Linked DNA regions of Homo sapiens: region 1 is linked to region 2. The links come from fine-mapping of genetic effects on gene expression. Tissue or cell type: whole blood. Region 2 holds a variant in brackets; the other region holds the start of a gene. All regions are shown on one strand. Distances are between the middles of the regions.

Region 1 (8,177 bases), 27 kb before region 2:
AGGTTCTAATCCTGATTCTCATTGATTCCCTATGTGGCCACAAAAAAGTTGAGCCACATCTCTGACCCTCAGTTTCCTGATCTGTAAAATGGGAAAGTGACCATTATCTTTTAAGAATGGAGGGAGAATGCAACACTAACAGGAAGCACCTAACTGGGTCAGCACCCAAGGGCAGGCCCCCAAAAAGGGGAGCTGCTGGAGTGTCTTCAAAATCTCAGCTCGGCCAGGCGTGGTAGCTCATGCCTGTGATCCCAGCACTTTGGGAGGCTGAGGTGGGAGGATCGTTTGAGACCAAGAGTTGGACACCAGCCTGGTTAACACAGCGAGATACCTATCTCTACAAAAAACATTTAGAAAATTAGCCAGGCGTGGTAGTAAGTGCCTGTAGTCCCAGCTACTTGGGAGCCTGAGGCAAGAGGATCTCTTGAACCCAGGAGCTCAAGGCTGCAGTGAGCTATGACTGTGCCGCTGCACTCCAGCCTGGGCAACAGAGCAAGACCCTGTCTCTAAAAGAAGAAAACCTCTGTTCCTCAGGGTTCCCCCATCCTTGGGCAGTGCTCCATCATGGCATCCACCGCCTTGACTGTGACGCCGCCTCCTCAAATGGCCTTCCCTTCCACACCCCAGCAGGAGGGCAACCCCATCACCATCCTGTGACTCCCTGCCTCTGTCACCTAACGTCACCTCTGTCACTATCTATTCCCTGCTTAGAAACCATGTGTCCCACCCCATGGTAAGTTCCACTCTATCTGTCTTACCCCTGCTGTACCCCAGCACCTAGCACAGTAGCCAGCATGCGTTAGGTACTCAAATATCTGGTGAATGAAAGAATTAATGAATGGATACAATAGTCATGTACAGATCCCCTTAAGACTCCAAATAGTTACACAATCAAATTCAGCAGGAAGTGTAAATTCTGGGGCCTCCAGGGCCCAGGCAGATGATAGACATATGAAGGGGTTAGGGCTGGGATGAGGCAGAGTCTACAGGCCCCACCTCCTCAGAGTCCTTCTCAACTACACTCAATAGATGCAAACAGCTCTCCTGAATCTTGAGTTGCAGAATGTTCCAATTTTTCAAGAAAAATCAGACATCTTAATTTTTATATAAAATCTCCTGATTAAAAATCTAATGTTGGCATCTAATTTTAAAAGTGGCAGGTCTGCAGCACTCTGAAAGCAACAGCTATGTGTGAGGTTGTTCATTCATTCATTCACAGGCATCGGAGGACGGGTACGGCAAGAACAAAGGATGGGACAAGCCAAGCTAGGGCCTCTTCTCTGAAGTTTACAGTCATATGTGAGGGGCAGACATTAGCCAGATGACAGCAAACATAACAGAACATTATAACGGTAGGAAGTGATGTGAGTGCTCACATCAGGGAGGTCTGGTAGGAGAAAGAAATAGATGACAGAGGTAGGCAGAAAGGCTAGCACATTCTCAGTCATCTCCCACTCACACACACGCTCAATTAAAGAGAAAACTTGTGGCTCACGCCTGTAATCCCAGCTCTTCGGGAGGCCAAGGCAGGGATCACTTGAACCCAGGAGTTCGAGACCGGCCTGGGCAACGTGGAGAAACCCCATCTCTACAAAAAATACAAAATTTAGCCTGGCATGGTGGCACACACCTGTAATCCCAGCTACTAAGGGGGCTGAGGTGGAAGGATCACTTTAGCTCAGGAGGTCGAGTCTGCAGTGAGCCATGATCGCACCACTGCACTCCAACCTGGACAACAGAGCAAGACCTTGTGTCAAAAAAAAAAAAAAAAAAAAAAGAGAAAGAAAGAAAACGAAGGTAGGGCTTGGCGAAACAGAACTGTCCTCTGAAGTGGACCATGCAATTCCAGGATCCAATTAGACCTTACCTGTGCTGGGCTCCCTGGACTCCTCCCCAAAGCCCTGCGTGTCCTTCTTTTTCCTACAAAGAGGAGCAGACAGTGTCCACTTTCAATGGGACATAGAGTCCTCAGCCCCCTGACCCCCAGCTCAGAAGGCCACAAACACTAAGTTTCAGCCCTGGCCCTGCCGCAAACTTGCTGTGTGACCTCTGACGTTCAATACCCTTCTCTGGGCCCCCACTGCCCGGACAATCACAGCCAGGTCAGCAGCCACCGACCGTTTACAAAGTGGCCCGACAGTGCGGGTGCAGGGCGGAAGGTCCGCGGTGGGGCTATTTCTTGGGGGATGGGGCTTAAGCTCTCCAGGAAGGTGAACAGAGGGACAACCAAGGAACGGAGAGTATGGGTTTAAGGTCTCTCGGGGGGTGGGGGGCGAGGAAGATAAACCAGGCTGGAGGCGTGCCCAGAGGGCGGATAGGGCGGGGCCTGCGGCTTGGGGGCGGGGCCTGAGAAGTGCGCCGAGATCACGCTTATGAGGGCGGGGCTACGGGTTCCCCGGATGGAGCCGCAGTCCGGCCGCGACCTACTCACAGCTTAAAGTTCAGCACCGCCCCGGCATTCATCAGCAACGTCCTGCAGAGGGAGAATTACAGTTACTAGGGGCGCCCCCGCGTCCTGCCTGGCTCTCTCTTCCCAGCCTCTGGTCCCCCTAATTACCCGAACAGCAGGATGTCTCCGATCATCGTTACGGCCGAAGCGTCCGTCAGAACCGGAAGCGGAAGCCCCAGGGAGGGAGGGGAGAGGAGCACAAGCCGACCAATCCTAAAGCAACAGTGGCGAGGGCTGGGCCAATCGAAGGTCAAGGCTGGGAGGGTCCCGCCCTCTGCAGGCCAGACCCCCTTAGGGGAGCGCGAGCGCCCCACCTCGCTGGGGAGGCCCCGAGAGCCAGAATGGGAGGAGCGGGGTCTCCTGGGGGCGGGATTGGGTCACGCGTTCGAAGCGTGCCGCGCATGCGTGAGGTCTCGATGCCGTAGGGTTAGCTGGGCAGCAATTCCTACTCACTTTCTGGGGTCCCAAATTGGGCTTCTGGACAAAAGGAATCCTTTGACTCCTGAGCTGCACAGGGTGCGGGGTCCTGACGCAGTGGGGTCCCTAGAAACGGGTGCCCCAACCAACTGGGCTCTAAAATGAGATCCTCCTGGGCCCCATGGGGAACGGGGGTTCCCACTGAGCTGCCCCCCACAAGACGTCCTGATTTGCAGAGCCCCACCGGAGACGGGGTTCCTGATCGAACGGACCCTATGGGGCAGAAAAGTCTTGACGGGGCTCCACAGAGGACCGAGGTCCTAACCTATCTCCACGGGGAACAGGGGTTCTGATTCATGGGGTCCCACCATGGCGTAGGGGTCCTCACTGGGCTCCACCGAAGATCGGGGTCCTAATTGAGCCCACGGGGACAAAGTCCTGGCCGATCCGGCCCCCTGGGAACGGGCGTCCCGCGTGGGTGGGCTCCGTGAGGGACGGGCCCCCAGAACAGGCAGCTCCCCAGCCTCCCTCGCCTTGCACGGGTGCCCCGCACCCCGCCTCGCTGGGCGGAACGGGGTAGCGATGGCAGGAGGGTCAACGCCTGGGACGCCCGACCGTCCAGCTGCGTCCGTGGTGCTGGGCGTCCCCACCACCTGTCCCGGGGTGGGCCGTCGCCCCTCCTCTCCCGCGGGGGCCGGGCCTGGGGTGGCGCCTGGCGGGCGGGGGCGGGCCCAGCTGCGGGGGCGCAGTCGCCGGGCCGCGGGCGGCGGGACGGACGAGGCCGGGGCCCCGGGTGGCACCCGGCAGGCGGGCAGGCGGGCGCCATGGAGCTGCTCTCGGCGCTGAGCCTGGGCGAACTGGCGCTCAGCTTCTCGCGGGTGCCGCTCTTCCCCGTCTTCGACCTCAGTTACTTCATCGTCTCCATCCTCTACCTCAAGTATGAGCCAGGTGAGCCGGGGCGGGGGGCTGGAGGGGACCGGCAGCGGGTGGCGCGGGCCGGGGCAGCTCGGGGGTCGCAGAGAGGGGAAGCCCGTGCGTGGTGGAGGGAGCGAGGGACAGGTTCAAGGATTGCATCGTGGGAGTAGGCAGGCGCTAGAATCGTGGGGTTCTCTCACGCCGGGGTGAGCCCGGGGGAGAAGCCCCCAGGACGATGAAGCTGGGGGAGGGGAAGGAGAGGCGTGCGCGGGTTTAGAGGAGGGGGAACAGGTGCTTGGGGTCGGGGCTCCTGGTTGGGTCAGAGCTGCAGGAACTTGGGCAAGGGGCGCCGGCTGTGGCGAGGGTGCAGGTGGGGGTCGGTGCATCTGTTCTGGCCGCGCGCAGGTGTGACCTCCCTCCTTGACCTTGGCACGCGGATTGAGAGCGCCAGCGGAGTGTCTATAAGGGCCACTGCGCTGGGGGCTGCGGTCAGGTTCAGCGAAAGTGACACCGGTTCTCCTCCCCACTGCAACTGCCCAGCACCCTCCACTCCCCTCCCTTCCCCCACGGTGCTGAATCTCCGAGCCCCCACGGGAATTCTTCCAGCCCTGGCTCCAGATCCTTTCCACTTACGGAGCAGAACCGGCCCCAAGGCTGGGTGACTTGGGGTCAGTGTCCTCCATCTCAGCTCCAGACTCCACGCTGGGGAGGTCACAGGAGGGTACAGCCTGCTTCTTAATTTTTAAAATGAGGATGAATGGCTTCCTTAGAACGTGTTCTATTTTTATAAAAGGTTCACCGTGAACAAATGTTTAAATGTTTCTTGTTCACCGTTATTCTAGAACACCAGCAACTTACTAGATAATAGATTTTAGGCTTAGAAAAATAAAGGAACCCCAAACTTCATAAGCCTTTCTCCCACTTAGATGTAAATTACCACTATAGCTCAGAAAGGAAATAGCTTTATTCTCAGAGGATAAAAATAAGCGCCCCTGTTTACTAAAAACTCAAACTGAAAAGGGCAAAGGAAAAAAAGAGAATTACTGTCAACATACTGGTGGCCAGCCACCTTTCTTGATGTCTCTTCTATTCATTTACGGCTATATAGTTATAAACGTAAATGCACGCTTTTTTTTTTTTTTTTTTTTTTGCGGTTTTTTTTTTAGATGGAGTTTCGCTCTGTCGCCCAGGCTGGAGTGCAGTGGCGTGATCTCGGCTCACTGCAACCTCCACCTTCCAGGTTCAAGCGATTCTCCTGCCTCAGCCTTCTGAGTAGCTGGGACTACAGGCACCCGCCACTACACTTGGCTAATTTTTGTATTTTTAGTAGAGACAAGCCTTCACCATGTTGGCCAGGATAGTCTCGATCTCCTGACCTTGTGATCCACCCACCTAGGCCTCCCAAAGTGCTGGGATTACAGACGTGAGCCACTGCACCCAGCCAATGCACGCTCTTATGCTAACAGGATTACACTCTATTTGCTAGGAATTTTTATTCTATTTTTGCCTATCCACATGCCAGAGCCTATTTTCTTAAAAGCTATCCTGGAGAACATTACTTTGCAAAACAAAATAGGCTTTTGTGTTGTCCTAGCATGAACATGGGGCTATCTTTCCTTTCTGGGGAAGAATTCTTGGTGGTTCAGGCCAGTTCCTTGGGCAGTTGCAGAACCTTAGAAAATCTGAAACTGGCTGGGCACAGTGGCTCACGCCTGTAATCCCAGCACTTTGGGAGGCCAAGACGGGCAGATCGCCTGAGGTCAGGAGTTCGAGACCAGCCTGGCCAACATGGAGAAACCCCGTCTCTACTGAAAATAAAAAAATTAGCCAGGCATGGTGGCACATGCTTGTAATCCTAGCTGCTTGGGAGGCTGAGGCAGGAGAATCACTTGAACCTGGGAGGCGGAGGTTGCAGTGAGCCGAGATCACGCCATTGCACTCCAGCCTGGGCGACAGAGCAAGACTCTGTCTCGAAAAAAAAAAAAATCTGAAACTGAGGAGGGTTGGAGCCCTGTGGGAATGTAGGACACAAATGTCTTGAGAAAAGAGGTCTCCAAGCTGCCTGGGAACTTGCAGGAAGGTTCAAGATATTTCTGCAGAAGTCCTAGAATAAGCCATCCAGGCTCTAAGTGCCAGAGCCTGAAGGTTCCTGAAGGCTGAGAAGTGGTTCCAAACCCTGGCTATTCATGAATTCATGAGACGCTCCTGGGAGCTTTTTTTCTTTTCTTTTTTTTTTTTGAAACGGAGTCTCGCTCTGTCGCCCAGGCTGGAGTGCGGTGGCGCCGCCTCTGCTCACTGCAAGCTCCGCCTCCTGGGTTCACACCATTCTCCTGCCTCAGCCTCCCAAGTAGCTGGGACTACAGGCGCCCACCACCATGCCCGGCTAATTTTTTTTTTTTTTGTATTTTTAGTAGAGACAGGGTTTCACCGTATTAGCCAGGATGGTCTCGATTTCCTGACCTTGTGATCCGCCTGCCTCGGCCTCCCAAAGTGCTGGGATTACAGGTGTGAGCCACTGCGCCCGGCCTCCTAGGAGCTTTTAAACCCCCTATCTCCACCCCCCACCAATTGAATCAGAATATTAATCTCCCCTCCCTCAGTGACTGATGTCTGTTATCAGGGCTGAGGATACTCCACCCAGTTCAACCTCCTCCTTTCATAACTGGGGAAACAGGAAATAGTGGCTAAGCTATCTTAAATACACAATGAGCCTGTGGTCCCATGGCTGGTCAGTTGCAGCCTCGGGACTCAGCCCAGGTCTGCTTGACTCTAAGAATCAGTACAATTGATGTGAGATTGGTTTCCTTAGAAAAGAAAGGTGTTGGAGGCCAGATGTGATGGCTTATGCCTGTAATCCCAGCACTTTGGGAGGCGAGGCGGGTGGATCACTTGAGCCCAGGACTTTGAAACCAGCCTGGGCAACATGACAAAACCCCGTCTCCACTACAAATGCAAAAAAATAGCCAGGTGTGGTGGCGCACGCCTGTAATCCCAGGTACTTGGGAGGCTGAGACATGAGAATAGCTTGAATCCAGGAGACGGAGGTTGCAGTGAGCCGAAATCTCGCTGCTGCACTCCAGCCTGGGTGACAGAGCCTGGCTGAGACTCTGTCTTGGAAAAAAGAAAGAAAGAAAAGAAAAGTGAGGTGTCGGATTGAACTGTTAGTCCCAGTTTGGTGTGCGTGCTGGGTATCTGTAAATTTTCTTCTCAGAATTTGTGTGCTGGACCAGCTACAGAATTTGCCAGGCCGATACAAAGTATCAGTGTGGGGCCTTTTGTTCAGAAATTAAGAATTTCATAGCCAGGCATGGTGGTGTGTGTCTGTGGTCCCAGCTACTTGGGAAGCTGAGGCTGGAGGATCACTTGAGCCCAGGAGTTGGAGCTCAACTGCGCCTGGCTGGGTCAGGCTTTCTTGAGAATCCTGAGAATGGATGAAGCTCAGAGTGTGGTCCTCAACAGAGCAGCATCAATGTTGCCTGGGAGCTGCAGCGAGCTATGATCACCCCACCGCCCTCCAGCCTGGGCAACAGAGCAAGACCGTGTCTCCTAAAAAAATAATAATAATAATAAAAAAAGAATGTCAGCATAGGTCAGATAATCTCAGCATTTGGGGAGGTCAAGGTTGGAAGATTGCTTGAGGCCAGGAGTTCATGGCCAGCCTGGGCAACATTGTGAAACCCCTTCTCTATAAAAAATACAAAAATGGCTAGGCGCGGTGTCTCATGCCTGTAATCCGAGCACTTTGGGAGGCTGAGGTGGGCAGATCACCTGAGGTCGGGAGTTCAAGACCAGCCTGACCTACATGGAGAAACCCTGTCTCTACTAAAAATACAAAATTAGCCGGACGTGGTGGCACATGCCTGTAATCCCAGCTACTAGGGAGGCTGAGGCAGGAGAATCGCTTGAACCTGGGAGGCAGAGGTTGCGGTGAGCCAAGATTGTGCCATTCCACTCCAGCCTGGGCAACAAGAATGAAACTCCGTCTCAATAAACAAATAAATAAAAATTAAAAAATGCAAAATACAAAAATATTAGCCAGGTGTGGTGGCATGTGCCTGTAGTCCTAGCTACTAGGGAAGCTGAGGTCGGAGGATTACCTGAACCCTGCAAGGTGGAGGCTGCAGTGAGCCATGATCGTGCCACTGCACTCCAGCCTGGGCAACAGAGTGAGACCCTGTCTCAAAAAAAAAAGAAAAAAGAAACTAAACGTCTCTGAATCATGGGAGTCAGTTCTACCACTAGCACTGAGTAAACACCACAATGGTTATTTCACCACCATGAGCTTCAGTTTATTTGTCTGTGAAATGGGATCATTGGTAAGAGAACCCCAGACTCCCTTTCCTAGCGATTGTAAAGATCTATTGAGAATTTTGTCAGGGATAAGGTCTAAGGCATT
Region 2 (8,177 bases):
GTCCCAGCTACTCAGGACGCTGAGGCAGGAAGATCGCTTGGTCTCAGAAGGTTGAAGCTGGAGTGAGCTGTGATCACACAAGTGTACTCCAGCCTGGGCAACAGAGCGAGACCTTGTCTCAAAAAAAAAAAAGCAATGAGAGACAGACATCAGGAATAGAAGTCACAGGTCTGTCTTTTGCAACAAATAAAAATATCTTAAACCTATTTTGCAAGGAAAAAAATAAAAGTTAAGGAAAACTCTGCATGTTGTAATCACATTTTCTGGGGGAAATAAGCTGATGGGGGATCCCCAAGATCATCCTGATGTTCCATGATTTGCTAGAAGGACTCAGAGAACTTAGCAAAGCCATTATATTCAGGGTTATGATTTATTACAGTGACAAGATATAGAATAAAATCAGCAGAGGCAGCTCACACCTGTAATCCCAGCACTGTGGGAGGCCGAGATAGGAGGATTGCTCAAGGCCAGGAGTTCAAGACCAGCCTATGCAATAGAACAAGACTCCATCTCTACAAAAAAAAAAAAAAAACTTAAAAATTAAGCAGGCACAGTGGCACATAACTCTAGCCCTAGCTACTTGGGGGGCTGAGGTGGGAGAATCACTTGAGCCTCAGAGTTTGAAGTTACAGTGAGCCATGATCAGACCACTGCACTCCAGCCTGGGTGATAGAGAGAGACCCTGTCTCTGTAAATAAATAAATAAATAAATAAATAAATAAATAAAACGAAATCAGCAGGGGTTGGCTGGGCGTGGTAGCTCATGCCTGTAATCCCAGCACTTTGGGAGGCTGAGGCGGGTGGATTATTTGAGGTCAGGAGTTCAAAACCAGCCCGGCCGACATGGCGAAACCCCATCTCTAGTAAAAATACAAAAATCAGCTGGCGTGGTGGCGGGCATCTGTAATCCCAGCTACTCGGGAGGCTGAGGCAGGAAAATCACTTGAACCCAGGAGGTGGAGGTTGCAGGGAGCTGAGATCATGCCACTGCATTCCAGCCTGGGTGACAGAATGAGACTCTGACTCATACACAAACAAGAAATCAGCAGGGGCAAAATGTGCATGAGGCAGAGTACAGGAAAGAAAAGGTGAAAATATCCAGTTTTCCTCTCCCAGTGGAATCATGTGGACAGGGCTTCATTCTCCCAGCAGCAATGTGTGACAACATGCATGGTGTACTGCCAACCAGGGAAGCTCTTCTGAGCCTGGGTATCCAGGATTTTTATTGTGGCTCAGAACTAGCTAACCACCTGTGTGGCTGACCTCAGTCTTCAGCCCCTCTAGAGGTCCACCTGATGCTGCATGGCCCAAGACCCCCACCATAAATTACGTTGTTACTACCTGGTGTGGCCCAAGGCCGTCCTCAGGCAAACAAAGACAGTCTTATCAAGGCAGGACACTCCAAGGGCTTAGAGGGCATATTCCAGGAGCTGGACAAAGGCCAGATCTTTCCTTGGACCAGGTTAACCCATCATGCATAGGATGACACCATCTCAACCTGCCACCTTACAATCAGGAGAAGCTGTGGCTGGGCGCAGTGGCTCATGCCTATAATCCCAGCACTTTGGGAGGCCGAGCAGATCACTTGAGGCCAGGAGTTCGAGACCAACCTGGCCAACATGGTGAAACACTGTCTCTCCTAAAAATACAAAAATTAGCCAGGCATGGTGGCATATGCCTGTAATCCCAGCTACTTGGGAGGCTGAGGTGGGAGAAACACTTGAAACAAGGAGGTGGAGGTTGCAGTGAGCCGAGGTTGTGCCACTGCACTCCAGCCTGGGCAACAGAGTGAGATTCCATCTCAAAAGGAAAAGAAAAGAGAGAAGCTGGGATGGGAGCTGGTGCCAGGGCAGGGGGGTGTCTGGGCCAGAGTTATGAAGACTTGAGCCATGCAGGCACCTCCCGGTAATGACAGCTGCTCCCTCCAGCCCCACCAAGGCCAGCCTGTATGGAGCCATCCTCTTCACCCTCCAGCAGACCCGCTGGCTCCCAGTGTCCAAAGCCAGCCTCATCTTCATCTTCACCTTGTTCATGGTGTCCTGTAAGGTAAGCCTTTCTCTTCTTGCAGCATTCTTGCCTTGACCAATGCCACCCTGCCACCTCCAGGTTGGGAGTGGGGAAATTGGACACTCCCAGCCTTATGTGGCTGGGACAGGCAGCCCAGAGAGGGGAGATGCTTGCCAGTAGGTCACTGGGAAGAGAGTTTAAAAGGCAGTGTCCAGCAGCCAGGACACAGATGAGAGGAACAGGCCTTCTGTGTAAAGGACCCAGCCTGAGCCAGGGTCAAGGTGGGCCCACTCTCTTGGGTACAGAGACCAGAGGGACAAGAAGCTGAAATGGCAGCATCAGGTACCCAGGAACTCAGTTGGACCAGGAATACTTCTAGTCTGACAGTCATGCCTTGAGTTGACATCACCCCACCCAGGAGGGGTCTTCAGGGGCTGGGCTCTCTCCCTCTGCATGAAGATCTTAGCTCAGGGCTGTGTCTTCCCTGGGTGAGGACTCCAGGGCTGTCAAAAGGGAGTGAGCATGTCTTCCTGCATTAGGCGAGAAGGGAGAGGCAAGCAGATGGCTGGGATCCTGTCCTGCTATGTTTGTAGCTCTACCCCAGGCCAAATGTCTTAGTCCATTCAGGCTGCTGTATAACAGAATGCAGTACCATAGACTGGGTGGCTTAGAAACAACAGAAATTTATTCCTGGGCAGGCACGGGGGCTCATGCCAACACTTCAGGGGGCCAAGGCAGGCAGATCACTTGAGGCCAGGAGTTCAAGACCAGCCTGGGCAACATGGCGAAACCCCATCTCTCCTAAAAATACAAAAATTAGCCAGGCGTGGGGTCACATGCCTGTAATCCCAGCTACTCGGGAGGCTGAGGCAGGAGAATCGCTTGAACCCGGGAGGTGGAGGTTGCAGTGAGCTAAGATCGCACCACCGCACTCCAGCCTGGGCAACAAATTGAGACTCTGTCTCAAAAACAAACAAACAGGCAAACAAAATACAAATACAAAAATTAACCAGGCGTGGTGGCGCATGCCTGTAATCCCAGCTACTTGGATGGCTGAGGCATGAGAATTGCTTGAACCCAGGAGGTGGAGGCTGCAGTGACCTGAGATCATGCCATTGCACTCCAGTTTGGGCAACAGAGTGAGACCCTGTCTCCAAAAAAAGGAAAAGGAAGAAATGTATTTCTTACAGTTCTGGAGGCTGGGAAGTCCAAGATCAGGGTACTAGCCTGGTCGGGTTCTGGTGAGGGCCCTCTTTACTGGTTGCAGATAGGCAGCATCTCACTGTGTCCTCGCATGGTGGAAGGGACTGGTTAGCTCTCCTGGGCCTCTTTATAAGGGCACTAATGTCTTTCCTGAGGGCTCCACCCTTATGATCTAATTACCCCTCCAAAGGCCTTACCTCCTAATACCATCACCTTTGTGATAGGTTTCAACATATGAATTTGGGAGGACACAGACCTTCAGACCTGCACTTAGCACAGCTTTTCTCTGAGCCCAGGTGTCGTGGGGAATTCTGGGGGATGGGTGACCAGCAGTCTCAGTGTGCTTGGAACTTTCCAGGGGTCAACACTTGAAATCTGGCATCCTGGGAAACCTGAGATGGTCGCCCATCATCCTGGGGGTGCATGCAGCCAGAGGGCTGGGTCTGGGCTACCTCCAACCTTGACTTTGATGACATTCTCTCCCCTCTTCTCCCCACCCTGCCCTCCACTCCTTTGCTTTCTACCTTGGTCTCCCTCTGTCTCTCTTGCTGTCTCCCTGGCCACCCCACCTCAGGTGTTTCTGACAGCCACCCACTCACACAGCTCCCCCTTTGATGCCCTGGAGGGCTACATCTGCCCCGTGCTGTTTGGTTCGGCCTGCGGGGGTGACCATCACCACGACAACCATGGTGGGTCCCACAGCGGTGGTGGGCCAGGAGCTCAGCATTCGGCCATGCCCGCCAAGTCCAAGGAGGAGTTGAGCGAGGGCTCCAGGAAGAAGAAGGCCAAGAAGGCGGATTAGGGGGTGGCCCAAGGGGCACCGGGGAGAGGACCCGGACCCAGGACCCTCTGAGCTGGGAGGCTTCCTGCGCTCAGATCTATCCTTTCCTGGCCTTGACTTCCCCATCTGCAAATCAGGGTCATTGGCTCACCCTCCAGGGCTGATGTGGGGGTTGAGATATGGGGATGAGGATGAAGAACTTTTGTAGAAATCGGGGTTCCCTCTTTCTCTCTGCCAGGACCCCATAGAGTCACAGCTTTTGGAGGGGTTCACAGAATCCTGGCAGCAGCTCCAGTCAAGAATGTCACTGGTTGGCATGATATTCTTAGTTGTATTTTTCCTTCTTTAAAATTGCATCTTGACCAGGCACAGTGGCTCATGCCTATAATCCTAGCACTTTGGGAGGCCGAGGCGGGCAGATCACCTGAGGTCAGGAGTTCAAGACCAGCTTGGCCAAC[A/T]TGGTGAAACCCCATCTCTACCAAAAATACAAAAATTAGCCAGACGTGGTGGTGCACGCCTTTAATCCCAGCTACTCGGGAGGCTGAGGCAGGAGAATCACATGAATCCAGGAGGTGGAGGTTGCAGTGAGCTGAGATCTTCCCACTGCACTCCAGCCTGGCCAATAAGACCTGTCTCCAGCAAGACCCTGTCTCAAAAAAAAAAAAAAAAATTGCATATTGACTCCTGAAGAACTTCAAGCCATGTTGAGATCCATTCATTTGATGGACATTTTCTAAGTACCTGTGAGCCAGGTGCTGCCATTTCAAAGTCTCTTCTTACCACGCTCCTCAGTGGCTAGACATTTTCACGTGGCCAGAAAGTCCCGACTCTTGCTGGGCGTCCCTGGACAAGTTGCCTTCCTCCTCTGAGCTTGGCGCTCCCCATCTGTATAGTGGAGACCCTTGGCCCCCCTCTGTACGGAAGGGCCGATGCGAAGCTGCAGTTAAAAAAGGCTCACATGCTCCTAGCCTCGTGCAGTCAGGAGGGGAGACCAGGACAGTTGGAAATTATGATTGCAAATGGCTTTGCATTTTAGATCATTCGTGTGTGTGGATCAGAGAAACGCACAAGTTCCCTGGCACAAAGGAAGCCCTCAGTAGACACGTCTAGGGCAGGCTTGAGAGATCAGATGGCGTGAAAGGCTTGTGATCTGTTCGTCTCAGGCTCCCCCTAAACCAAAGAAATGGAAACAGCTGGTTGGGGTTCCACGATCCAGCTCTATCAAGGGGCTCTGAGTGTGCACAGTTGGGACCTGGATGTATCAGGTCTCCCTCAGGCTGGAGTCCACTGTCACTCATTCAGCCATTGAACAAACATACAGATGCTTACCTGCTCTGTGGTCAGCCTTGTGCTGCTGCTGGGCGGGCCAGGAGCCTGCTTCAGTGTGAGCGAGGTGGATGATATTATAGCTGAAGGGTCCCTCCTGGTCACCCTCATCTCAGCCTAGGTCACCAGGATGTCTGAGAGGGGTGGGTGCATGGGACGGGCGTGGCCAGTCTCAGGTGAGGTTTGGGCCCAGACCTCGTTGGAGTCCCAGACGTTGCCAGGCTGTTGGAAAATTGCCTTGTTCCTGTGATGCCTGGGAGTTAGGTGGGTCCTGGGGAGGTTTCATCCTCTTGCTTGTCCACCTCAGCTCGGTGTGGAGGGGCAGCCAATAAATCATTGTGAATGAACCCTCATGGCTTGTCTGATTTATGCCTGGGATTTTGTTTTTTGTTTTTGTTTTTGTTTGAGACCGAGTCTCACTCTTGCCCAGGCTGGAGTGCAGTGGCCCGATCTTGGCTCCCTGCAACCTCCACCTCCCGGGTTCAAGCAATTCTCCTGCCTCAGCCTCCCGAGTAGCTGGGATAATAGGTGCCCGCCATCACACCTGGCTAATTTTTGTATTTTTAGTAAAAGCGGGGTTTCACCATGTTGCCATGCTGGTCTTGAACTCCTGACCTCAAATGATCCACCCACCTTGGCCTCCCAAAGTGCTGGGATTACAGGTGTGAGCCACTGAGCCCAGCCACATGCCTGGGATTTTGGCCTCAAGATGTGGGGATGGCTGGGCATGGTGGCTCATCCCTGTAATCTCAGCACTTTGGAGGGCTGAAGCGGGCAGATCACCTGAGGTCAGGAGTTCAAGACCAGCCTGGCCAACATGGTGAAACCCTGCCTCTACTAAAACTACAAAAATTAGTCAGGTGTGGTGGCAGGTGCCTGTAATCCCAGCTACTCGGGAGGCTGAAGCAGGAGAATCGCTTGAACCTGGGAGGTGGAGGTTGCGGTGAGCTGAGGTGGAGACATTGCACTCCAGCCTGGACAACAAGAGCAAAACTCATTCTTTAAAAAAAAAAAAAAAAAAAAAAGGCTGGGCATGGTGGCTCACACCTGTAATCCCAGCACTTTGGGAGGCCAAGGCAGGTGGATCACGAGGTCGGTGGATCACGAGTTCAGTAGATCAAGACCATCCTGGCTAACATGGTGAAACCCCATCTCTACTAAAAATACAAAAAATCAGCTGGATGTGGTGGCGGGCGCCTGTAGTCCCAGCTACTTGGGAGGCTGAGGCAGGAGAATGGCGTGAACCTGGGAGGCAGAGCTTGCAGTGAGCGGAGATCGCGCCACAGCACTCCAGCCTGGCAGACAGAGCGAGACTCCATCTCAAAAAAAAAAAAAATGTATACTGTGTACAGTATACATTACATACATTATATGAAATCCTAGAAAAAGCAAACTAATGTATAATTACAGAAAGCTGATCAGTGGGTGCTTGGGGAAAGGCAGGTAGGGTGGGGTGGGCAGGAGGGATTTTGAAGGGGCAAGGGGACATGAGTGATGAGTCTGTTAACTTCTTTGATTGTGTTAGTTTCTCGGGTCTATACACATGTCAGAACCTATTACATTGTACATTGCAAATACACACAGTACCTCATTTGTCAGTGATGCCTCAATAAAGCTGTAAAAAAGAACCCTTCAATTATAAGGGAAAAAAGTGCGAGCTTGGTGGCTCACGCCTGTAATCCCAGCACTTTGGGAGGCTGAGGCAGGAGGATCACTGGAGCCCAGGAGTTGGTGATCAGCCTGCACAACATAGTGAGACTCTGTCTCTACAAAAAAAAATTTAAAAATTAGCCGGGGGTGGTGACTCGTGCCTGTAGGCCCAGGCACTCTGGAGGTTGAGTGGGGAAAATCACTTCAGCCCAGGAGGTTGAGGCTGCAGTGAGCTAAGATTGGGCCACTGCACTTCAGCCTGGGCGGAACAGTGAGACCCTGTCTCAAATAAATAAATAAAATAAGAATAAAGTAGAAAAAAACTCCACACCAAATTGGGCAAAAGAAGCTGGGCATGGTGACTCACACCTGTAGTCCTAGCTACTCTGGAGACCAAGGCAGGAGGATCACTTGAGCCCGTTAGGTGGTGTCCAACCTGGGCAACATAGCAAGACCCTGTCTCAAAAAAAAACTGGGCAAAAGATTTGAATAGACACCACCAAAGAAATTATATGGTTGGCAGATATCATATAAATTGCACATTAAAACCACAAGCATATGCCACTGCATACCTGTTATGAATTGAATTGGGTTCCTCTCAAATTCATTTGTTGAAGTCTTAACCCCTAAGGTATTAGGGGGTGGGACCCTTGGGAGATGATTAGGTCATGAGGGTGGGGCTCTCATAATGGGATTAGTGCCCTTACAGAAGAGGCCCCAAAGAAACACTTTGCTCTTCCTACCATGTGAGGACACAGAGAGAAGACACGTATGAACCAGGAAGCCGGCCCTTACCACACAGTGAATCTGCCAGTATCTTGATCATGAACTTCCCAGCCTCCAGAACTGTGAGAAATAAATTTCCGTTGTTTATAAGCCACCATTTTCTAGTATTTTCTTGTAGCACCCTAAATGGACTAAGACAGGAGATAAGGCCTTTTTTTTTTTTTCTTTTGGAGATGGAGTTTCCCTCTTGTTGCCCAGGCTGGAGTGCAGTGGCGCCATCTCAGCTCACTGCAATCCCTGCCTCCCAGGTTCGATCGATTCTCCTGCCTCAGCCTCTGGGATTACAGGCATGTGCCACCACGCCCAGCTAATTTTTTGTATTTTTAGTAGAGACAGGGTTTCACCATGTTGGCCAGGCTGGTCTGGAACTCCTGACCTCAGGTAATCCACCTGCCTCGGCCTCCCAAAGTGCTGGGATTACAGG

What was found. PIP is the estimated chance that this variant, and not a neighbour inherited with it, causes the effect.
Region 1: it holds the start of TMEM38A, and the variant in region 2 is fine-mapped to the expression of TMEM38A in whole blood (TOPMed, PIP above 0.99).

The regions. Positions count from the first base shown.
Region 1 is chr19:16,657,528-16,665,704 of GRCh38, forward strand. It overlaps TMEM38A (transmembrane protein 38A), which reads left to right and starts at 3,612. Exons shown (of 6, transcript NM_024074.4): 1 at 3,612-3,814. The coding sequence starts at 3,691. It overlaps SMIM7 (small integral membrane protein 7), which reads right to left and starts at 2,617. Exons shown (of 5, transcript NM_024104.4): 1 at 2,558-2,617; 2 at 2,432-2,473; 3 at 1,868-1,920. The coding sequence starts at 2,583. RefSeq lists silencers at 3,210-3,409, 3,430-3,679 and an enhancer at 3,965-4,773.
Region 2 is chr19:16,684,360-16,692,536 of GRCh38, forward strand. It overlaps TMEM38A (transmembrane protein 38A), which reads left to right. Exons shown (of 6, transcript NM_024074.4): 5 at 1,929-2,046; 6 at 3,785-5,664. The coding sequence ends at 4,012. Among named protein-coding and RNA genes, the nearest start is that of TMEM38A, 27 kb to the left of the region's middle. The variant A/T (reference allele first, on the strand shown) is at 4,450.